Linked DNA regions of Homo sapiens. The protein of the gene in region 3 interacts with the protein of the main gene of each other region in a pairwise test. Each region holds a gene or a part of one and is shown on either strand. Other genes may lie near its edges. The genes, in order: CPAP, PDGFB, BCCIP and CCDC33.

Region 1 (8,913 bases), on a different chromosome or scaffold from region 3:
AAGCCTTATTTACACGATACTGACACATGGTAGGACTGTTCAGCATTCCTTGGGGAAGTACTTTCCAGTGAAATCAGGGAGCTGGGCCTTCATTATTGATAGCTGGTATTGTAAACGTAAATTTTTCTCTGTCCTGTTTTGCAAGGAGAATAGTATGAAAGCAGTCTTTTAAGTCAATAATGACTCAAAACTCGAGGAATCACTGCGGGGGGAAGGGAGCCCCTGTGGAAGGGGCCCCATAGGTTGCAAATTAGCATTGATAGCCTGTAAGTCATGCAGAACTCTCCATTTACCAGACTTTATGGGAATGACAAAAAATGGGTGAATTCCAAGGGCTGTCTGCTGGTTCTATATGGCTGGCTTTTAATTGTTCCTCAATTAATTCATGGGTTTGTTGTAATTTCTCTCCCTTTAAAGGTCACCGTTCTACCCAAATTGGATCTTGAGACAGCCATGTCAGGGGTAGGGGAGGACTTACAACAGTGGCCACTATTAGAAAGGGCTCTGCATAGTGACCCCCCCATTGGGCTAATAAGGTCCCATTCCCAAAGATGAACAGGGATGGGCATGATTAGAGGTTGTATAGTTGCTTTTCTTCCCTCCAAATCGTGACTTTAGAGGGCGTGCACTCTGCTTGGCTGTGTGCACTTCTCCAGTGCCGACAATTTTCTGTTTCTGAGTGACCCATATGTTTTACCCAGCCAATTGATTCTGGTTGGTTTGTCATTCACACAACTCATCATATTCTGCCATCCAGAGGAGGTATTGACTGGCCTCTAAAGTTGTTTGAGCTAGCACTGACCTGTCCCATGGGATCATAAGGAAGTTGTCTGCTATGGCCTCAATTAATCCTTTTGTAGATGGGCTAGCAGCTCTGTTTTCTCTAATGCTTTTTCTTATCTCTTTATAGGTGTTGAAAGTGATGGGCTCATATACCTGATTGCCGTGTTGATCTTGCATCACAGGGCAGGCCAAGAGCTCCCCTTCTAATGCCACTTGCCTAAGACAGGGTCCCGTAACTGTAGTGTATCCCTTGTCTTTTTTTCCAATTTATTGGAGGAGGGGGCTCAGGGAAACTCTGTCTCCTCTGTGGCACCTTTACCTAGTAACAGTGGGGCTGAGGGAGGAGGAGGCGGTCAGGTAGGTGGATGGTTCCTCTTCCCTTTCCTTTTTAGGCTCTTTTGTGTAGAGTGGGGCCAAAGCAGCCCTGATTAAGGCCCATAACGTTAAAGATGTTACTGGGACCCGTTTCCCTTGTGCATGATGTTATTTAAGATTTCCCCTCACTTGCTCCCAGAGTTCTTGGTCTAACGTGCCTTCTTCTGGGAACCATGGGTTATTGAAAACAACAGTTTGCATTAGGCCCCTTAACTGAGCCTCCGAGACCCAGGCTCTGCTAGCTTTAAGCAGCTGTTTCAATACTTACATATAGTGTTGCTGTTGAGCTGATAACTGTTGTCCCATGATGAAACCCTAGGTTGAAAATTCCCTCAAACTTGGAAATCCTGAGTGGGCACCAATTACTTACTTCCCGCACAGTCTCTTCACCTCATTTTTGGGGGTTCCATCGTGATCTGTTGCAGCATTCCTCACACAGGGCACCAGTTGCTGGGTCTGTCCCACAGACCCTGGCTGGACGATGGATGAAACGAGTACTCAGACGCAGATATGCAGTGTAAGAGCAGCTAGGGGACTGCTTGGCACTAGCGGCCAAAGAGTGAGCAGGCAAACAGCTGGAGCTGCTTGCTTTTATTCAGTATAGACATAATGCTGAAAGCCTGGAGCAAAAACAATCTGTGGGTAATTAACATTATTGTTCCCCTTTCAGGGAACGGGTCACGCATGTGGATGATCAAAGGTCAGCTCCTGGTCAATGTAAGTAAACAAGCCTATTTACGATAAATTCCCCTATGCTTCCTGGTACCTACTCCTTGCCCTCTGCCTCAGGGTCAGAAAACAGCTGCCTTCAGCTTATTCTCCCTGGAGGCTATGCAGAGGCTTCCGACTTTTCAGAAGGTCTGCTCCTTTCCCTATAGTTTCTCCCACCACTCTGACTGATCTATAGGAATCATTCCTTGGCCAGGCTAGCCCTGATGTCCTCCCCCACTTTTTTTCTTTTTAAGAGTTGGCGGTTTCACTCTGTTGCCCTGGCTGTAGTCTCGTGGTGTGATCATAACCTTCAACTCCTGGGCTGAAGTGATCCTCCTGCCTCAGCCTCCCAAGTATGTAGGGCTACAGGTGCACACCATCATACCTGGCTAACGTTCAAACGTCTAGGCTCAAATTATCCGCTTCAGTCTCCCAAAGTGCTGGGATTACAGGTGTGAGCCACTGCACCTGACATGTCCTCTCTGGATAGAGTGGACACTTGCTACCATCAGACCAGCAATGAAAAGCTGTCAACTCTTTGTCACTCAGATCAACTTTGATTAAAAGAATTATTACCAGCCAAGCACAGTGGCTCATGCCTGTAATTCCAGCACTTTCAGAGGCCAAGGTGAGAGGACTGCTTGAGCCTACGAGTTAGAGACCAGCCTGGGCAACAGAGTGAGACCCCTGTCTCCAAAAAAATAAATAATGAAAAAGAATTATTTCCAAATAATTTGGGAATACAATAAGTATTATTCTGTGTCTGGCACAGCATTTGACAAGACCCACAGAGCTAGGCTTTGGTAGACAAGAGTTCACCAACAGTTAAATTCTTTATAAAGATGAAAACACCTCCTGTTCATTGACTTTTTACTATGTGGAGGTTTTTTGCTACTTTTTCATACATAGTCTTTCTTTTAATGTAATCTTCTTGACAGTCCTATGAAGGTCTCATTATTATCCACCCCTGTTTTGCAGATGAGAAGACTGGTTTCAGAAAAGTTGAGTGCTGAAGACTACAAAGCTGTTTGTAAGTTATCAAGCTAGGATTTGATCCCAGGTCTGCCTGATAAATCCTGGACTCTTAACCATGACATAGGAGTGCCCTCTTGACTCCTATGATGGCATAAAGAATTGTATCAGAACGGGTAATCTGGCATTAAAACCCCTGTGCCACAACCGTTAGTCTAATTTTTCTCTACAGCACCATCTGAAGATGCAACAAGGATAGGAACCACTGATAAGGTAGAACATTTTATTGTCTGGCAGAGTAGAAGATGGAAGTTCCTCCCCACTAGCCTTTCCACCTTGTAATGGATTTGAACCCTTGAAGCTTAGTGGGCAGTTTTGAGAATTACATGGGCTACAGGTGAAAACTTACACATTATAACCTTAATTTAACAGCCAGTTAAGACTTGAGTGTGGTAAAAGATTCATTTATTTATTCAATCAACAAACAATGTGGCACTACATACTATATTAAAATAAAAACATACGAATAAAATATAGGCACAAAAATAGAGGATATTGCGACTATCCTTAAAGATACACATTTTAGGAAGAATGATGAGACTTTTGGGCATGCTTTCAAGCCAAAGGGCTATCATAAATGAAAAGGAAGATTGTTTGGGTCCTTGTCTGGCATCTTAAGTAGCTGTGTGATCTCGGAAGTCTCGGGCTTTAGCTTCCTCACCCACAGTGAAAATTAAAAAGAAAAATTGGGCCGGGCGCGGTGGCTCACGCCTGTAATTCCAGCACTTTGGGAGGCCGAGGCGGGCGGATCACGAGGTCAGAAGATCAAGACCATCCTGGCTAACACGGTGAAACCCCTTCTCTACTAAAAATAAAAATAAAAAAATTAGCCAGGCGTGGTGGCGGGCGCCTGTAATCCCAGCTACTCGGGAGGCTGAGGCAGGAGAATGGCGTGAACCCGGCAGGCAGAGCTTGCAGTGAGCGGAGATCGCGCCATTGTACTCCAGCCTGGGCAACAGAGCGAGACTCCATCTCAAAAAATAAAAATTAAAAAAAGAAAAGAAAAATTGAAAAAAGAAGCAAAACCGAAATCTTGATTTAGAGAAGTAGACTCTTTTTGAAGTAGAAAGCAAAACAAATTTTGGAGGACCAAATTTCTGTGAAATAGTTTTGTCTTTAGCAGTCGTTTGTTTCAGTTATAACGGTTATAAATGGCACTTCATTTGATTTCTTTAAACATTTTACTTGGCCTGCTGTTTAATCAGACATGGAAGCCAGGTATGTAGTACTGTGGTAACTCACGGTGCTGTAACTTCCTAGATTAAAGGGCCGTGGCAGTTAAAACGAAACAAAACAAAAAAATTTCTTGAATTCTGCACTGTCAGTATTCAAACTAGTTTCAGAATCTAATGGACACACTCTGCCAAACCACCGATTAGCCATTTGAGGAGAGATGAAAGATGCCTATTTTTGGAGTGAATTCTCATAGGGTTATTTTCGTCTTACGAAATGGTGTAGCGGACTGCCCTTTTTCTCCTTTACTAAGTCACCTCAGCCAAAGCGGAAAACAAAGAAAAAAACCAAACCAAACCAAAAAAACGACAAAATAGACCGTACGCAAATAGAAAAAAAAAAAACAAAACCCAAAACACCTCCTTTAAGCGTCGGTTGGGCTCTATGTTAGCTTTGACTCTCCGTGCTCCCTGCTTTGCTGGGAACACGGAGATCCATCGCTCCGTTAGGCGTTCCCTTTAGTTTTCTAAGTGTGGGAGCCTGGGGCGACGTCCACCACGGAAGGTCTCTCCCGGAAACGGTTTTCCGCCCCGCCACGCCGCCCGCCTACGTCGACCACTGGCCCGCTGCTGGTCGGAAGGCGGCGCGCAGTCCATCCCCCGCCGGGCAACGCCCGTCGCTGTGGCGTCACTGGGAGTTGTAGTTTCACTGGGCTCAGCGGTGCCTGCGCTTTAGCGCAGACGCGCGGGTGAGATCCTCACTTCCCACAGGACCTCGGGACGGGGGCGGGGCTCCGACAGAGGCGGCGATTGTGGCGGCCCATTTGTAAATGCTGCGGAGATTGAGGTGTCGGTTCGTGCTGCTGAGCTGCCCAGGCTTCACGGAGCGGTAATTTGTGGGCGAAAAGAGCGGAGGAGCTCTTTGTCCGCCGCCCTGCGCCGGAGATGGACGGCGGTGGGCGGGCAGGACTCTGCTCGGACCTCGGGGTTGGCTCGGCGGGGCGAGGAGGGAGCGGGGCGCCGGGACGCGCTCAGGCCCACGGGCGCGCTGAGGCCCACGGCAGTTCAGTGGCTTCGTTCATTCGCGCTGCTTTGTTCTTCGCAGAGCTGGGGAAGCCGGCCTCTCTGGGGTGTCTGTCTCTCTGACCTGGCTGTGGCGGAACTTGAGTTCCTGTGGGCAGCGCGGCAGCCGCAGTCCGCTGGAGCAGGGTGGTGAAGTAGCGTTGCTGGCTGTCCTAAGGGCCGGTCTTGCCCCAGCTTTGTCAAGGGCTTCTCTCTTGAAGCTTCGTGTGGATTCATGGCTTTCAAGAACGTGTTGTATTTTAGGGGACTGCTAAATCACTTCCCAGACCAACTAGTTACTTCTCACGGTCTAAGAGTGGCTTTGAATTTGCTGTTTGTATCCACTCTCCTCCCTCACCGTGCAGAGAATTTATCTTTTTTTCAATACTGCTTTAAAGAATGTTTACATAGCACTTTCTGGAGATTTCAAGGCTGTCAGTTTGTTACATTTTTTAAAAGTTTTATTGAGGTATAATTGCTATACAATAAAAATGGCACATGTTTAAATGCATTCCATTTGATGAGTTTGACATACACGTGCACCCGTGTCCTTCAGATTTTGATATCTGTAAAGTCTGAGTCCACATACTAATCCTATCTCGGCATATATATTATCAATGCTCCCTTTACCAAGACCTCAGTATCAATAATAAGTAGCAGGTTCTGGTGACGCTTTTTTTATACTTCATGCTGACATTAAATATATTTTTAGAATCGCGGTCATGAAATTGAAGGTATAGAAGGTGTGTTTGGTGGGGAGTTGGAGGAGGAGATGCAAAAGTCTGGCTGCTGCATCCCAAGACTGCTTGCACTTGTCAGTCTAGTAGGGAATTTTTCTAGTTTTCCATATTATGAAATGACCTTGTAGTTTGTCTCCCTTCTGAATTTGGATTTCGAAAGATTTTCTGCTAAGGTCATTGAAATTAAGCAAAGTTACGTGGTTGATTTTGAAAAAAAAAAAGTCATTACTTTTTTAGATTGGTTTCCTACTGAAAAACAATTTGCTTAGAAAAAGTTTTTACAAATTATTCAGGAATAACAGATATCCAGTAAAGTGCGCTAATCTTAAGTGTACAGCCTAAGTGTATCCACCCCCTGTATTAACCTTCCCAGTTGTTGAAGTCAAAAATTTGGAGATGAATCTCTTAAGTTTAACGTTTTATTTGGGAAGAAAGAATGGCGGTTCCAGGCGTACAGACCAGGTGGTCTTCAGTATGTCCAAAGAACAAAGAGAAAGCTGGAGGTTTTATAAAAAAGAGAATTGTTATATCTGTCGCTCTTCGAGAAAGTTCATTGGTTCTCCTAAGGTTCTGGGGAGGCAGCAGGTCCTACCGAGTGGGCCATGGTGGAGGGCAAAATTAGTCCTACAATTGCAGCAAGTTACCTCAGCATCTATAGATCAAATTGGTCTCGGGTTACAACCGGCAGTTTCAGCATACTGACTTATAGAGAATTCCATTCTTGGAGCAAAGTTGTGTGTCCTGAGTGCCTTTCCCTCTTGACTTCTTGATTGTTTAGTTGGCTATAAGAATGACTCAATTTGTATGATCAACTTTCACACAGACAGGACAACTCCCATTTTCCTGGATAACGACCAATATGCCATTTATAACTATGGGTTTATTTTGCCTGTTCTTCAGCTTCATATACATGGAAACATGGGCCAGGTGCGGTGGCTCATGCCTGTAATCCCAGCATTTTGGGAGGCTAAGCCAGGTGGATCACTTGAGGTCAGGAGTTTGAGAACAACCTGACTAACATAGTGAAACCCCGTCTCTACTAAAAATACAAAAAAAAAAAAAAGCCAGGTATGGTGGTGCATGCTTGTAGTCCCAGCTACTCTGGAGGCTGAGGTGGGTGAATCGCTTGAACCCGGGAGGCTGAGGTTGCAGTGAGCCAAGATCACACCACTGCACTCTAGCCTGGGCAACAGAGTGAGACTCCATCTCAAAAAAAAAAAAAAAAAAAGGAATCATATTTGTCTGATGTTCACACATCATTATTTATTTTTGTTACTGCCTGTGGCAGCAATTTTTGTTTTTTTAAATGCCTGAATAGCTGTGGTTCTCAAAGTGTGATACAGTGAGAAAATGTACATCACATTGGCATTTTTGTTTTTGGTTATTAAATGGTTGGCAGGCAATCATCTTGTTCCAAGAAAATCTTCAGTTGCAATTAATGGTACAGTAAGCCTTTATACAACTCTTCTACAACTCAACCAGGGAGCGATGGCAAAAACACAGTATCATTATGTTCACTGTCTTCTATGTCTTTTAACAGTTCTATAAACTGGCAGTTGATAGCATTTGTACATACTGAACAATTGTAACAACTATATTCATGATACTATTCGTGGATTATGCTTCAGAAAACCAAACACAAGAATTTTCAATGTGTATTATACAGGGGAATGAATCAGCGAGGGAAACAGCAGTCTCTTGTTGTAAAATCCCATTAAATTCAGATTTTTTGCCTTATAGAATGACACCATCTGTCATGATAGAAACTGATTTTTAGGCTGGGCGCAGTGACTCACACCTGTAATACCAGCACTTTGGGAGGCCGAAGCAGGAGGATGGCTTGAGCCTAGGAGTTCAAGATCAGCCTGGGCAACATAGGGACACCCTGTTTCTACAAAAAAATTAAAAAATAAAAAATAAGCTGGGCATGGTGACACATACCTGTAGGCCCAGCTACTCTGGAGGCTGAGATGGGAGGATCACCTAAGCACTGGAGGTTGAAGCTGCCGTGAGCCGTGATTGTGCCAATGCACTTCAGCCTGGGTGACATTGTGAGACCCTGTCTCAGAAAAAAAGAAAAAAAGTAATGTTTTCATATCTAGCTAAAATTCTTCTGTCAGACATAAAATACTGGGCGCAGGGGCTCACGCCTGTAATCCCAGCACTTTGGGAAGCCAAGGTGGGAGAATGGCTTGAGCCCAGGAGTTTGAGACCAGCATGGGCAACACAGGGGGACCACTCTTTACAAAAAATTAAAAGATGAGCTGGGTGTTGTGGTATATGCCTATGGTCCTGGCTACTCCGGAGGCTTGAGGTGGGAGGATCACTGGGGCCTGGGTGGTAGAGGCTCCACTGAGCCGTGATCATGCCACTGCACTCCAGCCTGGGTGACAGTGAGACCCTGTCTCAAGGAAAAAAAAAAAGATTAAAAAATATCCATGTCACAGGTTCAGTATCAGGCTTTGAATTGATATCATCTCTTTGTAAATTTAGATAATCTGTGAGATAAAACACACCTAAATTGGTGATTGGTCAGTCTCTCATTGCATTACTCAGATAAAGCTAAAGACAAGTGCTTGTAATTTTTTATGGCTTTGAACCTGGATGGTAATAGAAGGGTCTATGGACAATTGTTTGGTCACTTCGTTGAAAATTTTTCACTTTTTAGAAAATATCTTTAACCTTTTAATTAAAATATCTTTTTAAATCTCACAGTGTTCTAACAAAATTTCCTCAACTCAGATAACCTATTTACCTCCTCTTCATCTGAAAATAATTTTCTTTTTTCTTTTCATTTCTATCTCTTTCTCTCCCCTCACCCTCCTTCTTTCCAGGCTTTTTTATAACTGGCCAAAGTTAAAAGGTCAGATTCTGTTCAAAATCATAAAACTTTTTTTTTGTTGGCTATTTAGTTCTGACACAGGTGACTAATTACAGTTGACTCTCGAACAACATGAGTTTCAACTTTGTGGGTTCGCTTATGCTTGGATTTTCTTCCACTTCTGTCACCCTCGAGACAGCAAAACCAACCCTTTCTC
Region 2 (8,717 bases), on a different chromosome or scaffold from region 3:
TCTCCCGCAGCCCCCCGGGCCGCGGCCAGCTGTTGGGGAGGGGGTGGCCGGCCGGCCCCAGCTGCCGCCTCGCCTCGCCGTGGGACCTGGGGGCTGGGCCCGGTGCCAGGGCGTCCTGGGAACGGCGGCGCCCCGTGGCTGCTCTCCGCAGCCCACCCCGCCCGGGCCCCCGACTCGCTCACTCACCCCACGCATGCACACTCCTGGCCGGAGGCGATGCTGCGCTCCGGCGGGCGGGCGCGCAGAGCGACGGGCACGCACTACCGCGGCCAGGTCGCGCGCCCGCCTCTGCCACGCCCGTGCACACGCGGGACACACGCGCGCGCACCGCACACAAACGCACGCACGGCCCCTGCACGCGCGGCCTGAGCACACGTGCGCGCACACCCACGCACGTACACAGGCACGCACGGGCCCCCGTGCACCCAGCGCCTGGTGCTCGCCCCCGCGCAACAGGTGGGCCCTCCGTGGGCCCTGGCACCTCACCACCTCTGTAGCGGCCCCATTTCCTTCCTGGCGTCCTGTGAGGGAGGGAGAACCTCCCATCAGCACCACAGCACCTACTTTTTTTTTTGCCTCGTCAGCCCGACGCCCCTCAAACCTTACCCATCTGTGACTCCTTTTTTTCAACCACCTCCGCGTGGTGGAAAATGGTGGTGATGTGACTCTGAGGGGCACTGAGCTGTCCAGAGCGATTCCCCCTTCACATAAGCCTTCATTTGAACCTGCAAGACTGGAGGGACCTGGCGTGTGCAACCGCGGAGGGGGCTCCCACCCCTGGCTGTTGCATTCTCTTGGCTGATCCCAGCGTGCCCCGGGGAGGCCGCTGACAGCTGGATGTTTCCCCAGCCTCCCCTTACCATTTCCAGCTTCGTCCAGCACCTCCTCCTTCTTTCCCACAGCTCCACGGGCTCGTGTATCTGGGGTGGAGGCTGTGGCACAGAAACTGCCTTTCTCCTCACTTTAGTCACAGCATTCTTGAACACATGGCCACAGGCGCGATGTATGTGGCACTTTGCAGTTTATGAAGCACTTTGCTGCTAAGCCTGAGTGAGCCTCAGGCTGGCCCTGGGGGAGGGGACCTGCATGGGGATGGAACCACGCAGGGGTCAGTCCAGGAAGGAGCTGTAATGGCCAGTGCTGGGAGAGTCAGGGCAGGCCTGCTGGTGGAGGTGGCCTTGGAGCTGTCCACGTCCTGGTCGTGCTCGGACTAATCTTTCAGCAGACGGCAGGCAGCCGTGAGGCAGGGCTGGGTGGAGGGCCTGCCGAGGCCTCTGAGGTGCCATCTCCACCAGCTGAGCTGGCTTCCAGGAGGGCGAGTCCCACTGTCACGTGACGCGTCTGGCCTCAGCACACTTCTTCCGGGAAAGAGTGAAGGGCCCCACTGCCCTTTGCCATCCAGCTTCCTCTGGCTTTGCTAATGGCCCTAGGGGGCAGGAGACCAACTGCTGGAATCCCAGAGCCCTGGAGGTGTGCAAGGGCAGGTCAAACAGAATTTGGAGGATCTGGTGCAAGAGCCAGGAAGAGAGAGAGAGAGAGAGTGTGTGTGTGTGTGTGTGTGCGCATCTGAGAGAGAGAGAGAGAGAGACTGACTGAGCAGGAATGGTGAGATGTTTATCATGGGCCTCGTAAGTACCTCTCCACGTCTTGTCTTCCCCTCCCCACATTGAGGAGCCTCTTCTGTGACAACTCTTCCTATGTTCTGGTTTATTTCATTGTTTATTACCTGCTTTCTCTACTGGAGTGTCAACCCCATTAGAGAGCTTTCCTCCTGGTCCCCACTTTTAGAACAGTGCCCAGAGCCCTGTGGACAATCAGTAACTATTAGTGCAAAGAACAGTTAGTGCTGGGTTGGTGGGGAGGGCAGGACCTGGCCCCCTGTTGCTCCATGGCCCCACTGAGTCCTCGCTTTGCTCTGCTCCGAGGGCAGCCCCCCTTTTCAGCCCTCTGGTAGGCATCAGTCTTTCAAAGCCCCCCATCTTGAGAGAGAAGCATGTCTGTCTCTCCTCTGTCTTGGGACTTGGGCTACCAGGATTAGACAGGACAGAGGAGAAGAAACAGAAAGAAAATCAGACTGCAAAGGTTCTGTGTATCTTTAGCTGGGGCTAAGTTTCTGCCACCTAAAAAAAAAAAGAGAGAGAGAAGATTGGATTAGTGCAGAGTTCCCAAAGAATGGCAGAATCCCCTGGCCCCGTCCCCTGGCTGGGATGGGGATGGGCAGTGATTGCCGTGGTTGCCAGTATTATAAATGGCTGGACTGGTTCCTCTCTTCCTGCTTTAATTTTCCTCTGCTCCTGCAAGAGGTGGGGAGGCCAGGGTTCTGGGCCCACGTGAAGGAGCAGAGGCTGAGCGGGAGGGTCCCAAGAGCAATAAAGAAGGGGAATGCTAGGTGGGAAACACTGGTTCTAATGGCTTCTGTGGTTTGCCCCGAGAGGGCTTCTTCAAAGGGGTTGGTTGGCTTTGGCATTCGATCTAAATAAGGCCTGCGACTCTCAGGCAGGCAGGCTCTGGGAGGCCTCATCAGCTTCTTCCTCTGCCAGCCACAGACAACGCCCCTGGTTGCTTGGGCCTGTGTGTCCCTTGGTGGGAATGGCAGGCGGGCCGGGGAGTGTGTATCTGTGTGTGTGTGCTGGGCCCAGGAGGAGGGTGGGGTTCAAGCCCCTTTGATCTGCCAGCCTGGTTGGGAGCAGATCACTCACCTGGCCTCACGCTCGCTCGTGCCCTTCCTACCTGCTGCAGCTGGCGCTGGGGGCGGGGTCGGAGGAGGCTGTTTACCTTGGCTCCCACGGCTGGCTTTGCCCCAGCTGCCTCCTCGCCACGCCCTCACTCTGCCAGAAACCCCGGGCCTGAGATCTTGGGACAGCTTCTTCAGGGTGCCAGGCCTCCTTTCCCATCTCTGAAGTGAGCTGTCCACCTGGAGGCCTGCGGAACCTGTGCCCAGGAAAACCAGGCTCCGGGCGGCTCACCTTCCCATACCAAGAAGAGCCTGTGACTCCCAACAGGTGCTCATGCTCGTCATCCCCAGAGCATTGCATCCTGGAGCTGAGCACGTGCTGAGTGTCCCCCCACCCTCACCCACCCCCAGCCCCGGAAGGGCCTTGTAAGCCCACACGGCCCAGGCTCTGCCAGTGTGGAGGTAGGGTACCATTTCCTGTGGCCCAGCACAAGGGATAATGCAAAGTCACGCACTCTTTCATGGGCAGGCAGCTCTCCACCCACTCCTTGTCATCCTCAAAAATGTCCTGTGCTGCTGGCCCTGAGCACGTGTGCCACTCGCTGCTGCCCACAAAGGAGCCATCCGGAAAGAATTAATGATGATGACAGTGACAACTCATTAAGCTCCCATTATCTGCTGGCAGCTCTGCTCTGTGCAATTATGCCTCCCAGTAACCCCGGGCGAGGTATTATTAGCCCCATTTAAAAGATGCAGAAGCCGAGGTTTTAGATTGTGACAAGATTCCAAGAATCCAGGTTGCCCTGGCATCTGGAGCCCTTGCTCTTTCCTCCGCTACAGGGTTTCTCAGCCTCTGCACTCCTGATGTTTGGGAAGGCCGTCCTGTGCCCTGAAGGGTGGTGAGCGGCATCCCCGGCCTCCCCCAACTTAAGATGCAGTGCACACCCCAAGTTGTGGCCACCAGCGATGCCTTCATACATTGCCACTGTCCCCTGGGGGCCCACTGGGCCCTGGTTGAGAGCCTCTGACGTGGGACATGCTGCAGAGTAAAGAGCCAACACGAACCTTGTGTGATGCTGAGGGCCAGTGGCCTTAGAACACAGGAGAGGGAGGCTGAGACGCCCCATGGTGGGCTGGAACAGGTGGGCAGTCTGGAGCCTGGGAACGACCCAGCTCTGCCACTTGCTAATTGTCTGGACCTGTTGCTGCTTGTTTAATTTTTTCTAAGCTTCAGTGTTCTCATCTGGAGGATGGGGATACAAATACTGCCAGCCTCTTAGGATTGGTAGTTTATACGGTGTTTTTCTCAGCGTGTGGCTTGTAGCTGGCATTCATAGATGTTAGTTGTGGTATTATTACCAAATCCGGGGGCTTATGGGTAGTTCTGGGCATCTAGTGGCCACATTACCAAAAGCATCTTCAGGGACGGTCTCCCTGCTCAGATTAAAAGGGACTCTAGTTGCTCATTTGCCTAGGGTTGGGGAAGAATATCCCAGGTGGCCCTCCTGGTGGAGGAGGCAGAAGAATCATACTGGACAGAACCTGGAAAATGGTAGACTCCTTCATGCATTTGACCAGTATTTACCGAGGACCTACTATGTGCCTCTCTCTCCTCCTCAGACCCTATCCTGGGCTCTTTCACACTCAGCCTTGGAGGGGCATCTCCTATGTGTCGTGGGCCTGGATCTGGGGTGTCCACTCGGCCTGTTCAGGGGTCTGCCTCCTCTGCCGTGGCTGGCAGCTGCAGCCGGCTCTCCAGTGGGCAGGGAGATCTTGGCACAAGCACTAAATGCCATTTGCTACTAGGCCTTTGGGCCCCTCCCCTGGGGGGTTAATTGAATCTTTACTCCACAAACGCTTCTTGTTCTCCTTCTGCCAGTGATCCAGGGAGGCCTGGCTAGGCACCCGGCTTTGGCGTTTTCTCTGCCCCTTCTAACGCCTCCTGGCAGAATTAGAATTGAATCGAATGTTCTTCAAGCCCCTCGATTCACAGATGAGAGCCAGGACCATAGGGGCAGTGACCAGCCGAGGTCACACGGCAGTTGGTCCAAAGGCGTGGGATTCAGCTCTCTGGCCTGCCAGTTCTGGGTTTGACAGAACTCTCAGGGGAAGCGGCTTTCGCTGGTGTTCACTGGAGACCAAGCCCTCTGTTCTGTGGGTTGGGTACTTTGTCAACATTTGGAGAGCACCGGAGGCGTGGTCTCTCTTCTGAGGTGGAAAGAATGAACTTGCTTGAGGGCGGGAGGAGGCAGAGCCCGGAGGAGATGGGGCCGAAAGTGAGGGGCAGCGGGGCCCATACCCTCCTCTGTCTTGCACGTGCAGCCCCTGGCTGCCCGGATATTGAAGGAAAGACCCTAGTTCTCAGCCAAGCCCTGCCACCTTTTTTTCCTCAAGTTGCCCAGCAGCCCTTAGACATTGGGCGGAGTTGTAAGCTCCATGTTCAAACAAAGACATGGAGACTCAGGGGTTTCAGGGAATGATGTAGCTTTAAAAGTGGTCACCCCCACCCCCCGCCCTGAGTCTTCTGGCTCCTGGATCGATGTGGGTGGCCAGAGTTGGTCATGGATGAACCCCTGGAGGTGTTGCTAGACCTCATGATAAGCTGGAGGAAACAGAGCTTTCGGGGAGAGCCCCCTGAGGCTGGCCACAGGGCTGAGACGACCTCTTCTCCTCTCCCTCGCTCCCCCTCCGCCGTCAGGCAGCGAGAAAGCAGCATCCCTTTTGTGAAGGTAGCCTGCACCGACCCCCTCTGAGCCCCCCGACCTTCGGCTCCGGGAATGTGGAGCGAACCAAGAAGGGAAGTCCTCCCTTCTTAATCCAGGGAAACTGAGGCAGAAAATAGTTTAACCCAAGGTTCTATAGTAATGTGCCAAGCCTATTGATGCCCTCTCCAGGACTGTCTGTCCAGACCGTGCAGCCCGAGTGCCTGTGCCTGCACGTGTGTGTTTGCACACGTGGAAGTCCGGTTCCAGCCTTTGAACGTGCAGCGACATCTTAGGAATTTTCTTTGCTTCTCAGTGGCTGGTGGTCTGGATTGTGATTCTCAGTCTCCCATCTGCCCTCGCCTCTTTCTTGGGATCTCTGGCATCCGCCCCTTGGGTCTCCTGGGACTGTGGGGGACGTGGCTGTGACCTTCCTACGGGGCTGCTCTTGTGTCATTGTGGGACCTGCGGTTTCCCTGGAGGAAGCCCAGCTCCGAATGAGGCCTGTTGAAGTGTTATCAGGTTTCGAGTATGTTTGGCAACAGGCCAAAGGGGCTCTAAAAATAGGGTTTGGTTGGGCACAGGGCACGGGTAAGCTTTCAGGTTTCCCGGCCGTGTCCGAGGATTCCCTTTTCGCCTCTTTCGAGTGAGAGACTTCATAGATACCGCTAGGACCTGGGGCCTCCTGAGGCCATCGCACTCTGCACGCGTTTATTAAGCACCTCTTGTACCCAGGAGCCTGGGAGTACAGGCTCTGTCATCCCAAAGGCATGGGTTTGAATGCAGCTTTTGCCAATAATTGAGCCTCTCTTTGAACGTTTGTTTTCCCCTCTGTAAAATGGGGGTTAGATTGGCCATGGGAGATGCTGGCTGTCTTCAGCTGTCAGGTGTGTTGTGAGACTCAGGGAGAAATCAGATTTTGGTGCATTCCCAGAACATGTAGTTTGGTGGGGGAGACAGACATAGAGACAAGCAGGTCCAACTCAAAGCAAGCTGGGGTTCCTGTTGGGGGTTGAGGGTGCAGGGACTGAGCTGGGTCTCAGAGGCTTCGGCAGGTCCAGGCCCCGAGGCCTTTGTGCTCCTGATCATCAGGCCTGGATCCTGCCTGTCCGTCTCCCTGTGACCTTGGAGCTTTCCACAGGAGAAAGCGAGAAAGCGTGTGGTGGGGGAGACAGCCATGCTGGAAAGCCCCCACTCCCAGCTCACTCAGCCTTTTGGTGTCTGCCCGGCAGGGGGACCCCATTCCCGAGGAGCTTTATGAGATGCTGAGTGACCACTCGATCCGCTCCTTTGATGATCTCCAACGCCTGCTGCACGGAGACCCCGGAGGTAAATGGAATCCTCGCCCCGCGCTCCGGCCCTCCGAGGAGACTTTAAGAGATCTGGGAGGGGCAGGACAGGAGGCATCCCTCCTTCTTGACGTCTGGAGAACTAGAGGCCCATGGCAGCCCAGAGAGAGCGTGGCCACACCCATCCAGGGCAGGGCCGAGTCAGCAGGCGGGTTGGTACCTGGGACTTGGGGTGTGGCAGGAGAAGCACCCACGTGTGGCTCCGGCTTGGTGCCAAGGGTGGGGTGCCAGGAGGAGGGAGGGCGGGGAGAAGGTGCCCAGGGCATCTGCCGAGTATGTCTCCAGGTGTGGGCCCAGCCAGGGAGGGTGGCACTGGAGGAGTCATCTCCCCGCCCCTCTGGCTAGGGGCCCGGTCTGTGAGGTCCCCTGGGGACACCTGGCCTCGACCAGCAGGCAGCCCTGCCCGTGCCCCAGAGCTCACTCAGCGAATGGGCACGTGCTCGGTGGCACACACGTGGCGGGGCTGGCGGGCTGGATTGACAATGTATTTATAAACGCTGTCTTCAGAGCAAATTCCATTCTATTCTAACCTCTGGCCTGTTCCCTGGAGCCCTGGTCAGCAGCCCCCCTGCACCCCCAGGTCCCCTTCCCTCTGGGGTTCTGTCTCTTTGTCACTTTGTAATCCTTGCCCAGACGCTATCTACGGGGGAACAGCATTTCCTGCCTTTGTTTCCTCTCCCCGTTGGGCCCCTGGCTCCCTCTCAAAAGCATTCCCGGGCCCTTTCAATCCCGCCTGTGCTGGGGGGCGGTGAGGCAGGCAGGAGGGGGCCCCAGCTGGGCCCACCTATTGTTCGCCAGGGCCCCCACCCGATGTCTCCCACAACCCCCACCCTATGCCCGACTGGCCGCCCCTGGCCACACACAATGGGGCAACTTCCAAATTTAGCCTTTCTACCATTTCTTTCCAAGCCTTTACACCCCCACCCTCAGACGGCCCCTCCACACCCCTGGTGGGGGTCGGGATCTTGGAGATGAGGTTTCAATAGCAGGCCTGTTTCAAGGCAACCATGTGGCTATTTTTTCCTAATCAACTTAACCTTTCCACAAAGCGCATCTTTTCCCCATCTCCTCCCCACCAGGGACATTCCAGAGATGGCAGGGAGAAAGGAAAGGAGCCAGAGGGACAGATAGGCTCGTTGACGTAGGGGCTGTCAGGCTGGACGGAAGCGGACTAGTCATCAGACTCCCTGCAGTACCCGGGACGGACAGGCGGCAGGCGCCTTTGTCTTGGATGGGGCCAGTGGGTCGGTGCCAGAACTGGAGCCATGGGGTGCTGTGTGGAGGTGGCAGGAGCGTGTTCCCAATGCCCCTTAGTTTATTTGTGGCTCCTCACCCATGAGAGAGACAGAAGGGTCTGTCCACGCCTTAACATCCAGCTCAGAGGCCTCCCTCAGCCCTCACTTCCCAGCAGCCAACCTCTGGCCATGGGCTCTGGAAAGGACCGATGTCTCCAAGGAGGGCTGATGGGACTGAGATGGTGCCCAGGCTAGAAAAGGGAGCTGTCATTTGTGACCAGAGGAATCAACAGACGGCTGGGGGCAGAGGTGGGGCAACAGTTTAGAGAAGGGGAGGGAGACAGACACAGATACAGATACGGTGTGAGGGCCCCGGAGCTAGAGAGACCAGGCCCTAGAAGGGTGTGTGGCAGGGACTCCCCACCCCCAGCAGGCCCAACTCCCACCCCTCTTCTCCTCTTCTCTGTCTTCAGCTCCCACCCCCATCCCTCTCCCTCCCTCCCTCCCTCCGTGGCTCCCGCCTGCCCAGCGCGGCCATTGTCCGGGGCTCCAGAGGGGCTGTGTTCAGGGCATGCGGTCCCCCTGGGGCTTCTGGGAATTTCTCCATTCAGCACTTCCTATGGGAACGCTGGGTGGAGGGGCACTGGAAACTGGCCTTCAGTGCCCTAGGTCCCGGCCCCGCCCTGGAGGCCGAGGAGGGTTCACTTACAGTAGCAAAGGGGAAGGGTTATTTTTAACTCCACTGACATGGGTTCTG
Region 3 (5,223 bases):
ATTTAAGTGATATATAAGTAGATAATTTCATATAGACTTTGCATCCCCATTTGATTGAAGTTTTTCACCTTCACAGATAGCTTTCTGCAACATGAATAAAATAATGAACAATTACAACAATAACAAAACTGGTAAAGTTCCCAAATTCTATTGGTATGTTTCATAACAAATGAAACCATAGTCCTGATACTGTGGCTAGCTTTTCAGGGTTTTTGTTATTCTATTTTTTAATCCAGAAGTTTTAAGTTTACAAAAATATTTCAAATGTAGCTGTGAAATCTAGCAAACTGAGTGTACTAAGAATTGTATTGTCTGTGCTTTGCAACAGAGGACAAAATATAGGCAGATTCTCTTATTTATTTCTATCTAATTTAAATTTTTTTTTTTTTTTGGTAGAGACAGGGTCTTGCTACATTGCCCAGGCTGGTCTTGAACTCCTAGGCTAAAGTGATCTTCCTGCCTCGGCCTCCCAGTGTTGGGATTACAGGTGTCAGTCACAGCACTTGACCTAGACAGGTTCTTTATAGAATATTCTTTCTCAGAGGTCATAGCCCTTGCGTTGTGGTTTTCCTTTAAATAGCTGTAGGAATGCAACTCTACTCTGGAAACCTTTACGTTTGCTGTTTTTTCCTAGGGATTCGATGCTTCTTATCTCCTGCTCCCTGCTCTCTCAGCTGTAGCTCAGATTGTGCTTCTGGTGCCTTAAGTGGTTTTTGTTTTTTTTTGGTTTTCTTTTTTTCTGATCAGCTGGAGCTCACATTTATTTGGTTTTATAGGAGGGTGATTTGCTTTCTCCTAGTCCTGTTAAAGCTGAAGTGAGCCAAGCGCAGTGGTGCACGCCTGTAGTCGCAGCTACTCAGGAGGCTGAGGCAGGGGGAATGCTTGAGGCCAGGAGTTCCAGGCTGCAATATACTATGATTGTGCCTGTGAATAGCCACTGCACGCCAGCCTGGGCAAAATTACAAGACCCTATCTTTTTTTTTTTCTTTTTTTTTTTTTGAAAAGGCCAGGTGTGGTGGCTGACACTTGTAATTCCAACACTTTGGGAGGCCGAAGCTGGCAGATCACTTGAGGCTAGGAGTTTGAGACCAGCCTGGCCAACATGGCGAAACCCCAATTCTACTAAAAATACACCCACAAAAAATTAGCCGGGTATGGTGGTGCAGACCTGTAATCCCAGCTACTCAGGAGGCTTAGGCACGAAAATCGTGTGAACCTGGCAGGCAGAGGTTGCAGTGAGCCGAGATTGTGCCATTGTACTCTACAGCCTGGGCAACAGAGTGAGATTTTGTCTCCAAACGAAAAAAAGAAAAAAAAAAAAAAGGAAAGCTGAAGAGGACGGTTGTTCTGAGTTTCTTCTTTTGTTCAAGGGCATCCAGATGCACAAGGCTATGTTTAATTTTCAGAAAGAAGAAACATTAAGGCTTTGTTGCGATTCCATTGCTAGAATTTAGGTTGTGTGTTTATGCAGTTTCTGCAGTATGTCAGAAATTAGTTCCAGACTCTAGCAATTAGAGACTGTGGTAGTAGTCACAGGCTGTAGTGACATTGGTTGTGGCTGTATACCTTTGTGTGTTTCAGTTAAATGTTCATTGCTTTAAAAAATTCAAAAATTCAGATTCGTATATATTTTTAACTTATGCACAGGCAGAGCAGTGATACATTGAGTGAATTTGAGACTCATCTGATCTGTTAGTTGCTATATATCCACAAATCAGCATAATCTGAGAGATATATCATAGTATTATAAAAAGTAATACATAATCTAAAATGCAACTGATTATGTAAATAAAAATCATTCCTGTAGACTAAGTGTTCAGATTGAATGCCTGCGTCACAGCAGAACCCACTGAAGATGCCTCACCGGGTTTTCTGTGCTCTGGTTTGTTGATGGATTTCACTTGACCCAGCAGGTAAACAAATGTTGTGTGTGTGCCTTGCAGGAAAGAACTGGCGGGGGCACACAGAACCAATAAGCCATGTGGGAAGTGCTACTTTTACCTTCTGATTAGTAAGACATTTGTGGAAGCAGGAAAAAACAATTCCAAAAAGAAACCTAGCAACAAAAAGAAAGCTGCGTTAATGTTTGCAAATGCAGAGGAAGAATTTTTCTATGAGGTAAGACTATCCTGCTTATTTGTTTAGATGTAAATAAGGATTTTCTTGAAAATGATTTATCAAGATTTATTGTTCTCCCACTTTAGGTCCAAGTCTTTCAAGTGTGGCTACTCTGTTTTTCTGTTTCCCCACAGGACCTAGCAGCTAACATAGTGCCAGGTGCATAGTAGGTACTCAGGAGGCTAGGCACCAGCCTCCTTGCCTGCACTGTGGTTATGAGCATGAGGAGGAGGAGGAGAAAAGTGATTAACCTGTTAAGAATGATTAGGCATTTATAATATGCTTCCTGTGAAATCTTTCATTCTAAAACCATGCGGAGAGGTAGACATTAGCCTGGGGTTTACAGATGTGGACTTTAAGGCATAGGGAAATGAGGGAAATTACCTGCGATCACACAGCTGGTCAGTGTGGAAGCTGGGGCACCCCTGCTGCTCTGTGTCCTTAGTCGTGGATGTCATCCTGCTGGTGGGATATCTCCAGCATTTTTTTCCTATAAAGGTAGCTTGTACTGTGATGGACAGCCATATACCAGAGAATATTCTTACCCTCTCTTCCTCTGAAAAATCTTGAAGTGGGCCAGGTGCGGTGGTGCACACCTGTAATCCCAGCACCTTGGGAAGCTGAGGCGGGCAGATCACCTGAGGCCAGAAATTCAAGACCAGCCTGGCCAACAGGGAGAAACCCCATCTCTACTAAAAATACAAAAAAAAAAAAATTAGCCGGGCATGGTGGCAGATGCCTGTAATCCCAGCTACTCGGAAGGCTAAGGCAGGAAAATTGCTTGAACCTGGGAGGCAGAGGCTGCAGTGAGCCGAGATCGCGCCACTGCACTCCAGCCTGAGCAACAAGGAAGAAACTCCGTCTCAAAAACAAACAAACAAACAAAAAACACAAAAACATCTTGAGCCAGGCACGGTGGCTCACGCCTGTAATCCCAGCACTTTGGGAGGTCAAGGCGGGTGGATCACGAGGTCAGGAGATCGAGACCATCCTGGCTAACATGGTGAAACCCCGTCTCTACTAAAAAATACAAAAAATTAGCCGGGCGTGGTGGCACGTGCCTGTAGTCCCAGCTACTCGGGAGGCTGAGGCAGGAGAATGGCATAAACCCGGGAGGCGGAGCTTGCAGTGAGCCGAGATTGCGCCACTGCACTCCAGCCTGGGCGACAGAGCGAGACTCTGTCTCAGAAAAAAAAAAATCTTGAAGTGTATCTCTGAGGGGAACATATTTTCCTGAATTGGATGATATCACATCACTTTGAAGACTTCTGCAGAAGACTAAAGCGCTACAAATTTAGCTGTGCCCTTCTTTTCCAGGAAGTAAATAGTAAACATAATTTTTAAAAAACATAGGCCGGGTGCGGTGGCTCATGCCTGTAATCCCAGCACTTTGGGAGGCCAAGGCGGGCGGATCACGAGGTCAGGAGATCAGACCATCCTGGCTAACACGATGAAACGCTGTCTTTACTAAAAATACAAAAAATTAGCCAGGCACAATGGTGGGCACCGGTAGTCCCAGCTACTTGGGAGGCTGAGGCAGGAGAATGGTGTGAACCCGGGAGGCAGAGCTTGCGGTGAGCCGAGATCACGCCACTGCACTCCAGCCTGGGTGACAGAGTGAGACTCTGTCTCAAAAAAAAAAAACAAACAAACAAAAAAAACAAAACCATATGCTTCAACACCTCAGGTTGACCATTTGGGGGGAGTGTGTATGGGTGTTTTAAGATGGCGGGGTATGCAGATTTACTCTGTCTTCACACAAAAGCCTGATGCTAAGGAAGCAGCTGAGAAAGTGAGAAAAGAGTGTTTGAAGACAAGTTCTTGTTAAATATCAAATTTTACAAGTCTTAATTTCATTATGTTTCACAAGATTATTTTGACAATTAAATGAAAATACCACTTAGCTGCTTGTTCACCTCTTAGAAATTGCACACCTCTATCCCTGTTCCTCATGTGGGTTTAAAATCTACTTGGTTTGTGTTTTATAACTTCTGCCTGAATGTCCCATTTGAACTTTTTCAATTCTGAGTTTTGCTTTTTTTTAGCTCTCATTCTTATTTAAGCATATGCCAAACGTAATATTCTTTGCCGTAGATCAAATGGGTTTTGTCTTTGGGTTGTCCCGATTTTTAATTCATGGTTACTTATTTGGTTTAGAAGGCAATTCTCAAGTTCAACTACTCAGTGCAGGAGGAGAGCGACACTTGTCTGGGAGGCAAATGGTCTTTTGATGACGTACCAATGACGCCCTTGCGAACTGTGATGTTAATTCCAGGCGACAAGATGAACGAAATCATGGATAAACTGAAAGAATATCTATCTGTCTAACCCATTTCCAATGGACAGTGATGGGCTTGTTTTTGTAAAATTACCAGAAAACTCAGTGGAGATTTACTGAAAAACTCAGACTTTATTCAGATTAAGTTCCTCTACAAAAAGTAGGGTTCTGTCCCATGTGTCTCTGACACATTTACAAAATACCAGTTTTTTAAAATTTTGGTCAAATTATGAGTGGTTGATTTAAAAACTTTTCCAAGAAGAAGAAAAGCATGGAGTAGTAATTTAAAGAACTCAATAAAAACTTCTATTTTTTATTTTAAAATAATATACACAGTGTTATTTTCTTCAAGACCGTCCTGTGGATGTGAAATCCGTCTTCGCGTCATGTATCTCCCATATCCAGCAGTTCAGCCATCCAGCTACCTTTGGGACCCTGCTGCACCTTGTGTTTGCTGGGGAGTCACTGGAGAGTGCATCTCTGTTCAGTTTCAGGGCACGTCTCACACATTTGCTGTTCCTTATTCATTGTTGACACAGGGGATAGGTGATCCACTACTTGCTGTAGAATGTCCTTACTTTCACTAGGAGGCAGATTACTGAAATAGTATTGTGGTACCAGCTGCATAAATCTGTTTATTTAAGACAAAAAGATGAGATTATGAGTGGGGAAGGTGGTGAGAGACACCAAACATTATGTCTGGGCACTTCCCATCCCTGGAGAATCTACCTGTAGAACCGGTATTTAATTTGAACTCAGATAGTATCTCAGTCCGACTTTGTAAAATAAATACTTTCTGTTTTTTATGCAGCCAATCCTGTTGCATT
Region 4 (8,717 bases), on a different chromosome or scaffold from region 3:
GGTGCCTGCTACCACGCTCGGCTAATTTTTGTATTTTTAGTAGAGATGGGGTTTCACCATATTGGCCAGGGTGGTCTTGAACTCCTGACCCTGTGATCCGCCCACCTCGGCCCCGCAAAGTGCTGGGATTACAGGCGTGAGCCACTGCGCCCGGCCCGATATCTTTTCAAAATACTGATTTTGTTTCCTTTGGATATATACCCAGTAGTGAGATTGCGGGATCATATGGTAGTTTTATTTTCAATTTCTTGAGGAACCTCCGTGCTGTGCTCCATAATGGCTGCACCATTTTACTGCGTATTCCCACCAACAGTGTACAAGCGTTCTCTTTTCTCCACACCCGCACCAACACTTATCTCTTGTGTTTTTGAGAACAGCCATCCTAACAGGTGTGAGGTGCTATCTCCTTGTGGCTTTGATTTGCACTTCCCTGATGATTAGCGATGTGCACCTTTTCATGTGCCTGTTGGCCATTTGTATTTCTTTGTTGGAAAAATGTCTATTCGGGTCTTTTTCTCATTTTTTAAATTGGGTTACTTGTCTTTTTGCTATTGAGTTGTATGAGTTACTCATATATTTTGGATATTAACTCCTTATCCGATACATGTTTTGCAAATATTTTCTCCCATACCATAGGCTGCCTTTTTGTTTTGTGGATTATTCCCTTTGCTGCGCAGAAGCTTTTCAGTTTGATGCAGTCTCACTTATTTTTGATTCTGTTGCCTGTACTTCCGGTGTCATATCCGAAGATTAATTGCCAAGACCAATGTAAAGGAGCCTTTCCCCTGTGTTTTCTTCTAGGGGTGTTACAGTTGCAGGTCTTACATTGAAGTCTTCACAAATACATATTTTTAAAAAGCATTGAAATATTCATCATGAACAAAACGAAAACTTTCATGAACTTTCTTATGCCTATTGTGTGCTTTGTTACTTGTTTATTTGTAATCAGATGTGCAGGGATATAAATTCTTTCCAGGTTCTATGGCCTCTGAGGGTCTGGATCCTCCCTCTGGGGTTTCTGCCTGGGGCTGGGGGTGAGCACTGAAAGCCCCCTTCAGGTCCTGACAGCTCGGCCTTCACATTCTCAGAAGCCCTTCCTTCTCCCATCATTTGCATCTCATTAGCACCACCTCGAGCTGGTGGCAGCTTCGCCTGTCTGGAGCCCTGGGACGCAGGCTGCAGCCTGGCCCGGGCGCTGCTCCCAGCTGGAGAAGGGTGCAGCGAAGTGCTTTCCCCTCCCCCCTCCCCGCGTTCTCTGTCCCCACCCTCCCGCCCCACGTGCCGCAGCCACAGGGAGGGTGCAGGAGGACTCGGGGTGTGCCCGGCTCTCCGAACCCCCACCCAGGCTCGTGTCGCCTAGGCTCCTGCCGCGCGTTCCCATGGCAACCGGGTGATGGCGCGGGTCGCGGTGCCTGCCTAGGAGCCACACAGCCACCCAGCTCCCCGCCCCGCCGCCCAGGCCGGATTGGTGACAGTCAGGGCCTCAATCTCCCGAGATGATCGGCGATAATTGGTTTATGGAAATAGCTGAGCGGAGAAGGCGAGCTCCCCGCTAGAAACCAGCCTCCCTGCCAAGCCTGCTCCCACCACCTGTGCTTCCCTCACCACGGAAATGGAGTTGGGGGAGGGATGGCCGAGGAGCTGGGCTGGCACAAATGGGGCTTTTAAGGCAAGTGTTTCACCTGTTGCTCTCGGCACAGCTTCTACCCCCCTTTCACAGTGGGGGCCCTGGGGGGGCAGGGACTTATCATAGTAACCAGGTGTTGGCCTCAGTCACTCCTTGGCTCCTAAGTTTGGGCTCAGGCCTATGTTGGATGCATTGTTGAGGGAAATGGAGGAGGAGATCCGTCCTCAGGGAGCCCCAGAGGAGTGCATAAACCATGTTGATATAAAGTGCTTCAGACCAGGGTCACCACTGCTGTGGAGCTCCAGAAGAGGGAGAGCTCAACTCTGGTGGCTGCCTGGAGGAGGAGGCTTTGAAGGCAGGATTTCAGCAGGCATTGGTGAGTGGGCTGGGGCAGGCACTCCCCAAAAGGAAATGTGGGCAACAGACTCTTGGCAGGAACTGAATGGTGCCAGTATTGGTGGGGGAGGGGAAGTATAGGGTGGCTTGGTGGGAGGCCACCAAGGCTCCCGCCGTCTGTCTATAGAAGGTCTAGGGGTGACATGCTCCTTGGAGGGTGCTTTATAATAAAGATTGAGCAAATATTCAGTGTCCCCAGCGAAGGTTGGCTGGATGGAGATTGTGTTGCCCCTTGGCGCCTTTCTGGAAGAAGTGAGACCCGTGAGGTGGGCATAGACGTGGCGTGGCAGGCCTTGGTGCCAGGCTGGGGAAGTGTGTACCCTGACAGCAGCTGGCTGGAGGGGGTGTGTGGGGTGCATTAAAGGCCCAGAACTAGGGGAGTCCCCATAATAGAAGTGACTGGAGAAGGAGGGGAGGAGGGGAGGGTGGTTATGAGGACCCTACCCCAGGGCTGGGTATGGTGGGGTGGGGCACCCAGAAGTCAGGAGAGGCAGGTCCCAAATCTTCCCCTTCCCCAATCTGACCATCATGCCCATGAGCCCAGCCCAGACTTTTGCATACAAGGAACCTGCCCCACTGGAGCTGAGCTGTGACCAATCCCTGCCCCACTGGTGTGGGGTGGGGAGGGGTGACTCTCTGGATCCGTTGGCACCCTGTCTTCCCCAGCCCTGGTGAGCAGCTTCCCATGCAGCAGCGGAGATGCCAGGTAGTGCCCACAGCAGCTCCTCCCCTCTGGGTATGACAGTCCCAGTCCTGGGCCTTTGGGTGCTAGTATTCCAAATAGCTGTCCCCTGGTTTCTGCTCACAGCCCAACCCATCCCCTGCCCCCACTCTCACGCAGCTACTTACACCACCACATAGGGCCACGGCTCGGAGCCATCCTTGCAGGCAGGCAGGTTGGTAGCCCCATGGAGGGTGACCATGATGGTCTCCTTCTTAGAGGGAGACAGGTGACCGATCTCAGGTTCCGTGCTCTGGGAGGCGATCAGGGGCTCCTCTGGGTCTTCAGTGTTCTGTGGGGAGAGCCAGGGCTGAGTGTTTTTTTTTTTTTTTGAGACAGAGTCTTGCTCTGTTGCCCAGGCTGGAGTGCAGTGGTGCCATCTTGGCTCACTGCAGCCTCTACCTCCCAGGTTCAAGCAATTCTCCTGCCTCAGCCTCCACAGTAGCTGGGATTACAGGCATGTGCCACCACATCCAACTAATTTTTGTATTTTTAGTAGAGACGGGATTTCCCCATGGTCTCAAACTCCTGACCTCAGGTGATCTGCCTGCCTCGGCCTCCCAGAGTGCTGGGATTATAGGCATGAGTTACTGCACCTGGCCCTGAGTGGCCTCCTCTGCTGCGGCACCTCCCTTCACTGCCACCCTCTAGCACTAGCCACTCACAGCTTCCGTCAAGTGCCTGCCTCCCTCTGTCACCCTTCCGCCCACTCTGCAAGGCAGTCGCCTTGGCCCCATTTTCTCCCTACTTCTGTCCCCATCCCACGTCTCTCTCAGTGCCTCTCCTCTAGTCCTGGATCCTACCCTTCCTGCAGGATGAGACAGGCCACCTCACCTTTCAAGTCTGGTCCCACTTCTAAGCCTTAGCTTTCGCAGGTGTCCTCGTCTGTAATTCCTAAATCCCACCTGCTTTTGCAGTCCTAACAATGGGCCACCTTCTTCAGTCTATCTTGTAACCTCACCTCAGCTCACCCATCACCTCAGGTCCCTCCTGTGCACAGCACTTTACAGCTGACAAAGCTTCTCCACGTTCATGGGGGCATTCAGTGCATTACGTGGAGGTGAATGCATGTGTCTGTCCCAGATGCCCCACCTGTCTTCTACCCAGGAAACTTGCGGACTAGGGAGGAAGAGGTGCCTGCCCATGCAGGGGGCTTCCTACACCAGTTGCCCCAAGCAGGGACTCAGCAGCTTAGTAACTTGTGGATTCATGGCCCAAAGGACCATCTTAACGAGAGCTGCTGAGAGAAGACAAAGCCCTGGCCGGCTGAGGCGGTCAGGGAAGACAGCAGGGAGGAGGAGGCCTTAAAGGGTTGGGAGAAGGTGCAGGAGTGGAGTCAGGGAGGACAGGCCAGGAGCAGAACACTGGAGCGAAGGCAGCAAGCGGGAAGGGGCAGAGCTTTCCAAGGCCCAGAGGTGGCTCAGTTTGACTGGGGAGGCAGTGGGGACTCAGAGAAGACGGCAGAGCTGGGCATATAAACGCGGTGGGGTGGGGAGGGGTGTGGCCATGAGGCTGCTGTGGCTCAGGGGTGTCCTTGTCCTCCCTGGCCCTGGTCCTCCACTGGCCGGCTGGCTGACTCACCACTTCCAGTTAATCTGACACAGATTAACCCTTGATAGGCCTCCCGTGGTAGGAGGTCTTGCCTACCCTTTGTCCCTCCAGCTGATATGAGGGGCCATAGAGGGGCACTCCTGGCTCTGGGAGAGGAGCAATGGACCTCCTCAGGGTGGAGGCAGGGCCCTGAGGGGCCACTGGCAGGCTGTTCCTCATCTCTGGAAAGCTCAGCCTGTCAGACCCTGCATTCCAGGGCAGGCCCTGGTTGGGTGGGGTTGAGAACAATGTCCTATTACATAGAGAGGAAATTGAGGCCCAGACAGGAGCAAGGACCTGGGCCCTGGACGGGCTCTGGTTTTGGTGGCAGCCTCGGCAGGCTGGGTCCTTGGCTCAGAATGGCCGGCTCCTGAGGAGCCCTGAGTGTCAGGAGAGGTAGGTTTAAACCAGCTCTGCCTCTCACCATGCTGGGCCCCAAAGCCAGCCATGTTCTGAGAGTCAGTTTCCCCAGTGGGGAGATGAGGACTTGGACCGACCTATCTGGAAGCTGCTCTGCTCCTACCTTGAGCCTTGGCTCCTGGAAGCCTCAGGCAGACAGAAAGAAAAGGGCACAGTGCCTGAGGCTCTGCTCTGCCCCGAGGAGTTTTAGGAACGTTATTTCATCCATTTCTCACGGTAGCGTGGGGTGCCCACCAATCGGAGCCACACACCCCCTCAACAGCTCCCCTTGGGGGTCTACTGGCCTCTCAAAGCTAACGAACTCTGGACTCCCCTTCAAACCCCTCCTCCTGCTGTCTGCCCCAACTCGTTAATGAGTTAATGGCGATGCCATTGTTCTAGTTGTTCAAGCCCCACATCTTGGAGTCCTTCCTGATTCTTCCCTCTCTTCCTCTACATCCCTTATCCAGTTCTTCAGCAGATCCTGTCAGCTCCACCTTCAAACTATATCTGGACTCTGACCCTTCTCAGCATCCTCAGGTCAGCACTCAGGTCCCAGACACCTGTATGTCCCGACTCGCCTCTGATGGAGTTCTGTTTCCTCTCCGACTCTCCGTCCACCCCATCCAATCGCCAGAGTGAGCCTTTACAGATTGGACCCAGACCCTCTCTCTCCTCTGCTCAGAACCCTGAAGTAGCTTGCTGCTTCTCTCAGAGCCTTGCAATGGCCCGTGGGGCCCTCCAGGAGCTGGCCCAGAAAACTGACCTCATCTTGTCCCACGGGCCCTGTGGGTCACTCCGCTCCAGCCACACTGGCCTCCTGGCTGTTTCTCACACCTACCAAGCTCCCTCCTGCCTCCCCGCCTCTGCCCTAGCTGTTTCCTCTGCTCCACCCTGGGTGTCACTCCAGAACTGTCATCCCTGTGCCTTGCTCCCCTACTTCCCTTGGCTTGCCTGGTGCAGGCTGTGGTCCTTGCCTAGCAAGATGGCTAATTAGGAGGTGAGAATACATGCCCCCCAGATCAGAAGTGCCAGTCCTGCAGAGAGGCCCCCCTCTCCTTCCTCTGACTGAGGAGGCCACCCCCACCCTCTTCCAGGACCCAGCAGGGCCTGTCACCATCTACAGAGGTGTTGATGAGGGTTGCCCCTCCTTCTCTCCCCCATGCTCCTGTCAGGGGAGAATGAGGGGAGGGGAAGATGCCCCTGCCTGGAGGTGAAGGAGGAGGAGCAGCCAGAGTGCTGTTCCCTGCCCTCCTGGGTAGGCAGCTTCCTCCCATATCCACCCTCATGCAGGCCACCATGACCCCCCCACTCCCCAGCAGCCTTGCTCTCCTGGTTTAGTGGCACAGGAGTAAGGCTGGCAGCCTCAGGGCAAAAAGACCTAGGTTTCAACTTGGCCGGGTGTGGTGGCTCACGCCTGTAATCCCAGCACTTTGGGAGGCCGAGGCGGGCAAATCACTGGAGGCTGGGAGATCGAGACCAGCCGGGCCAACATGGTGAAACCCCATCTCTACTAAAAATACAAAAATCAGCCAGGTGCGGTGGCATGAGGCTGTAATCCCAGCTATTCGGGAGGCTGAGGCAGAAGAATTGCTTGAACCTAGGAGGCGGAGGTTGCAGTGAGCCAAGATGGTACTCCAGCCTGGGTGATAGAGTGAGACTCCAACAACAACAACAAAAAAAAGACCTAGGTTTCAGCTCAGCTCTGGCCCTACCTCTCTGTACCACCTCCCTGAGCCTTGATTTTCCCACCTGGCCAATGGGAATGTCTGGAATAGTTTGTGATTCAGCCTTTCCAGTGGTTACTGTGCCTGAAGTTCCTGCAGTGAGGCTGGGAGGGGTGATTCATGTTCCTAGATGGATTCACCTTGCTGTGAGGGCACAGGGCCTCTCATGAGCTCCCTAGGGCCATGAAAGGGAGGGCCCAGGAGTAAGACCATTGTCCAGGGGCTCTCATTGGCTCCCTGGCAGCCCCAGAGCCCAACTAGGCATCTGCAGACCTGGCCAGGAGTCACACCGGCTCCTCCTCTATCTCCCCTGCACCTCCCCTCGGGGACAGCCTTCCCTTCTGGGAATAAAGCTTGCAGGAAGTTTGGCGAGAACTATTGTGTTTCAGTTCTGGGCATGAGGCCAACTGCCAGGCTGGCGCCTCCTGGTGAGGCTTGCAGGCATGTGCCCGCTGGGCAGGCTGGGCCCAGGGCCAGGGAGGCTTGGGGCCAAGGGTAAGGCCAGAAGGGGGATGGTGGGCCAGGGCTGCTAACCTCCTGCTATCCCTTTTTTATTCCCATGTCTGGATGGGAATCTGCAGGCTTCCCTCAGAGATGTCCTGCATCAGAACCAATGTCCTCGACCCATCTGTTACCCCTGGCCTGCACTAGAGGATTGATGAGGGAACAGAAAATGCATATACTGGGTTACATGAGTGGTAGGGAACTGGGGGTGATGGGGTACCCCCCCCGTAACTCTCAGTTTGCACAAACTCATCTGTAGGGGTGTGGTGAGCCCTGGGGAGGGAATTCATGCCTCCTCTTGGCTGGGAGCAAAGCTGGATGCTCACCATCAGCTTCTCAGGCTCCCTCTCACTTAACCCACCCAACACTGCTAGGGTGCAGAGATCAGCAGGCAGCTTTTCCAGGCAGGGGTTTGGCCAGTTTACCTGCCCAAGGCCACACAGCCAGTGGATGAGAGGCTGGGCTGTGAGCACCGAAGCAAGCCTGATTCCAAAGCTCAGCACTCTCAGCTACTCCACTGGGCCTGGCAAGATTGGAAGCTGCTAACTCCAGTGCCCTTATCCAAACAGACAGGCAGCCTTGCCCTCAATAGGCCAGGATTAGCCAGCAGATGTTGCAGGGGAACTAGGACTGCCCATCACTTAGGGCATTTTTGGATCCATGTGCTGGGGGGAAGGGCTAGGGTGAGAGGAGGAGGTAGGAACAACAGGGAGTTAATGGTCCTTGAATTCAGCTCCCGCGGGTGGGTTGGGGGGTGCTTAACTTGGTTCTGGTGGGGAGAGAGATGGAAGGAGACAAACTCTTCCACCCACTCCTCCCTATCCTCCAGCAGCCTGGGAGGCCTGAGGAGCTGAGCCCAGTTCTGCCCTCTAGAAGGGCCGTGTGTCTGAAAAGTCACACTAGCTGGAGCGGGGCTGGGCTGGGAGGCAGGGTGCCTGGCTGCCCGGATCTGTCATTTGGGCAAGTTACTTGACTGCAGTGGGGCTATTTCCCAGCAGTTTCACAAGGACTTTCAGTTAAAAATGGTCCCCCATGTTCCTTCTAGTTTCAACATCTAAACTTGCCTGAGAGTTATGGCGGCCAGGGGAAAGCTCTTTCACAGGTGAGGAAGCACACTCAGAGAAAGTAAACCTCTTGTATGAAAGCACACAGCTTAGCTAGTGAGGCCAGGGCTGGAACTGGAAGCTGGGTCTGTCTGACCCCACACTCTTGCTGTCTCTGCTGTGCTCTAACCATGCTTCCTTGGATGTGGATCCCTTCTCTGCTCCACAGTGGATGCCCCCCTGAACTCATAATCTGAGTATCCATTGGTGGCAGCAAGAGGAATTATGTTCTTTGGAGCAGAGAAGCATTCCAAAAGATGACACAAAAGTCAGAAATCATTAAAAAGGGATAGGTTTGATTACATTTTAAAAATCTATACTAACTTCTATAATGGTCCAAAATGCCCTGCAATACAAAGAAAAGAAAAAAAGGAGAAAATGTTTGCTGCATATTTAAAAAAGGATTAATATCCCTAGTATACAAAGAGCACTGAAACCTATAAACATTATCCAATTTAAAAAACATGAACTGGGGATTCACAAAAGAAGAAACACAAATATGTATTATATATACATGATGAGCATCCTTTTTTTTTTTTTTTTTGAGATGGAGTTTTGCTCTTTGTTGCTCAGGCTGGAGTGCTGTGGTGCTATCTCGGCTCACTGCAACCTCCGCCTCCTGGGTTCAAGCAATTCTCCTGTCTCAGCCT

The links.
Region 1: the proteins of BCCIP (region 3) and CPAP interact in binary tests that used the Homo sapiens proteins (3 or more experiments, as listed by UniProt).
Region 2: the proteins of BCCIP (region 3) and PDGFB interact in binary tests that used the Homo sapiens proteins (3 or more experiments, as listed by UniProt).
Region 4: the proteins of BCCIP (region 3) and CCDC33 interact in a two-hybrid assay, tested with the Homo sapiens proteins (3 studies listed by BioGRID and IntAct).

What each region holds. Positions count from the first base shown.
Region 1 is NC_000013.11:24,918,810-24,927,722, reverse strand, and holds the start of CPAP (centrosomal P4.1-associated protein), read left to right. Parts: upstream 1-4,861; 5' UTR 4,862-4,962; intron 4,963-8,913. UniProt on the Homo sapiens protein: Plays an important role in cell division and centrosome function by participating in centriole duplication. Inhibits microtubule nucleation from the centrosome. Involved in the regulation of slow processive growth of centriolar microtubules.
Region 2 is NC_000022.11:39,233,766-39,242,482, reverse strand, and holds part of PDGFB (platelet-derived growth factor subunit B isoform 1 preproprotein), read left to right. Parts: intron 1-1,355; exon of another isoform or gene 1,356-1,470; intron 1,471-1,573; exon of another isoform or gene 1,574-1,610; coding exon of another isoform or gene 1,611-1,628; intron 1,629-6,608; coding exon 6,609-6,705; intron 6,706-8,717. UniProt on the Homo sapiens protein: Growth factor that plays an essential role in the regulation of embryonic development, cell proliferation, cell migration, survival and chemotaxis. Potent mitogen for cells of mesenchymal origin.
Region 3 is NC_000010.11:125,831,829-125,837,051, forward strand, and holds the end of BCCIP (BRCA2 and CDKN1A-interacting protein), read left to right. Parts: intron 1-1,943; coding exon 1,944-2,118; intron 2,119-4,275; coding exon 4,276-4,446; 3' UTR 4,447-4,723; downstream 4,724-5,223. Other genes in the region: putative pre-mRNA-splicing factor ATP-dependent RNA helicase DHX32, read right to left, coding at 4,859-5,027. UniProt on the Homo sapiens protein: During interphase, required for microtubule organizing and anchoring activities. During mitosis, required for the organization and stabilization of the spindle pole.
Region 4 is NC_000015.10:74,238,304-74,247,020, reverse strand, and holds part of CCDC33 (coiled-coil domain-containing protein 33), read right to left. Parts: intron 3,037-8,717; coding exon 2,873-3,036; intron 1-2,872.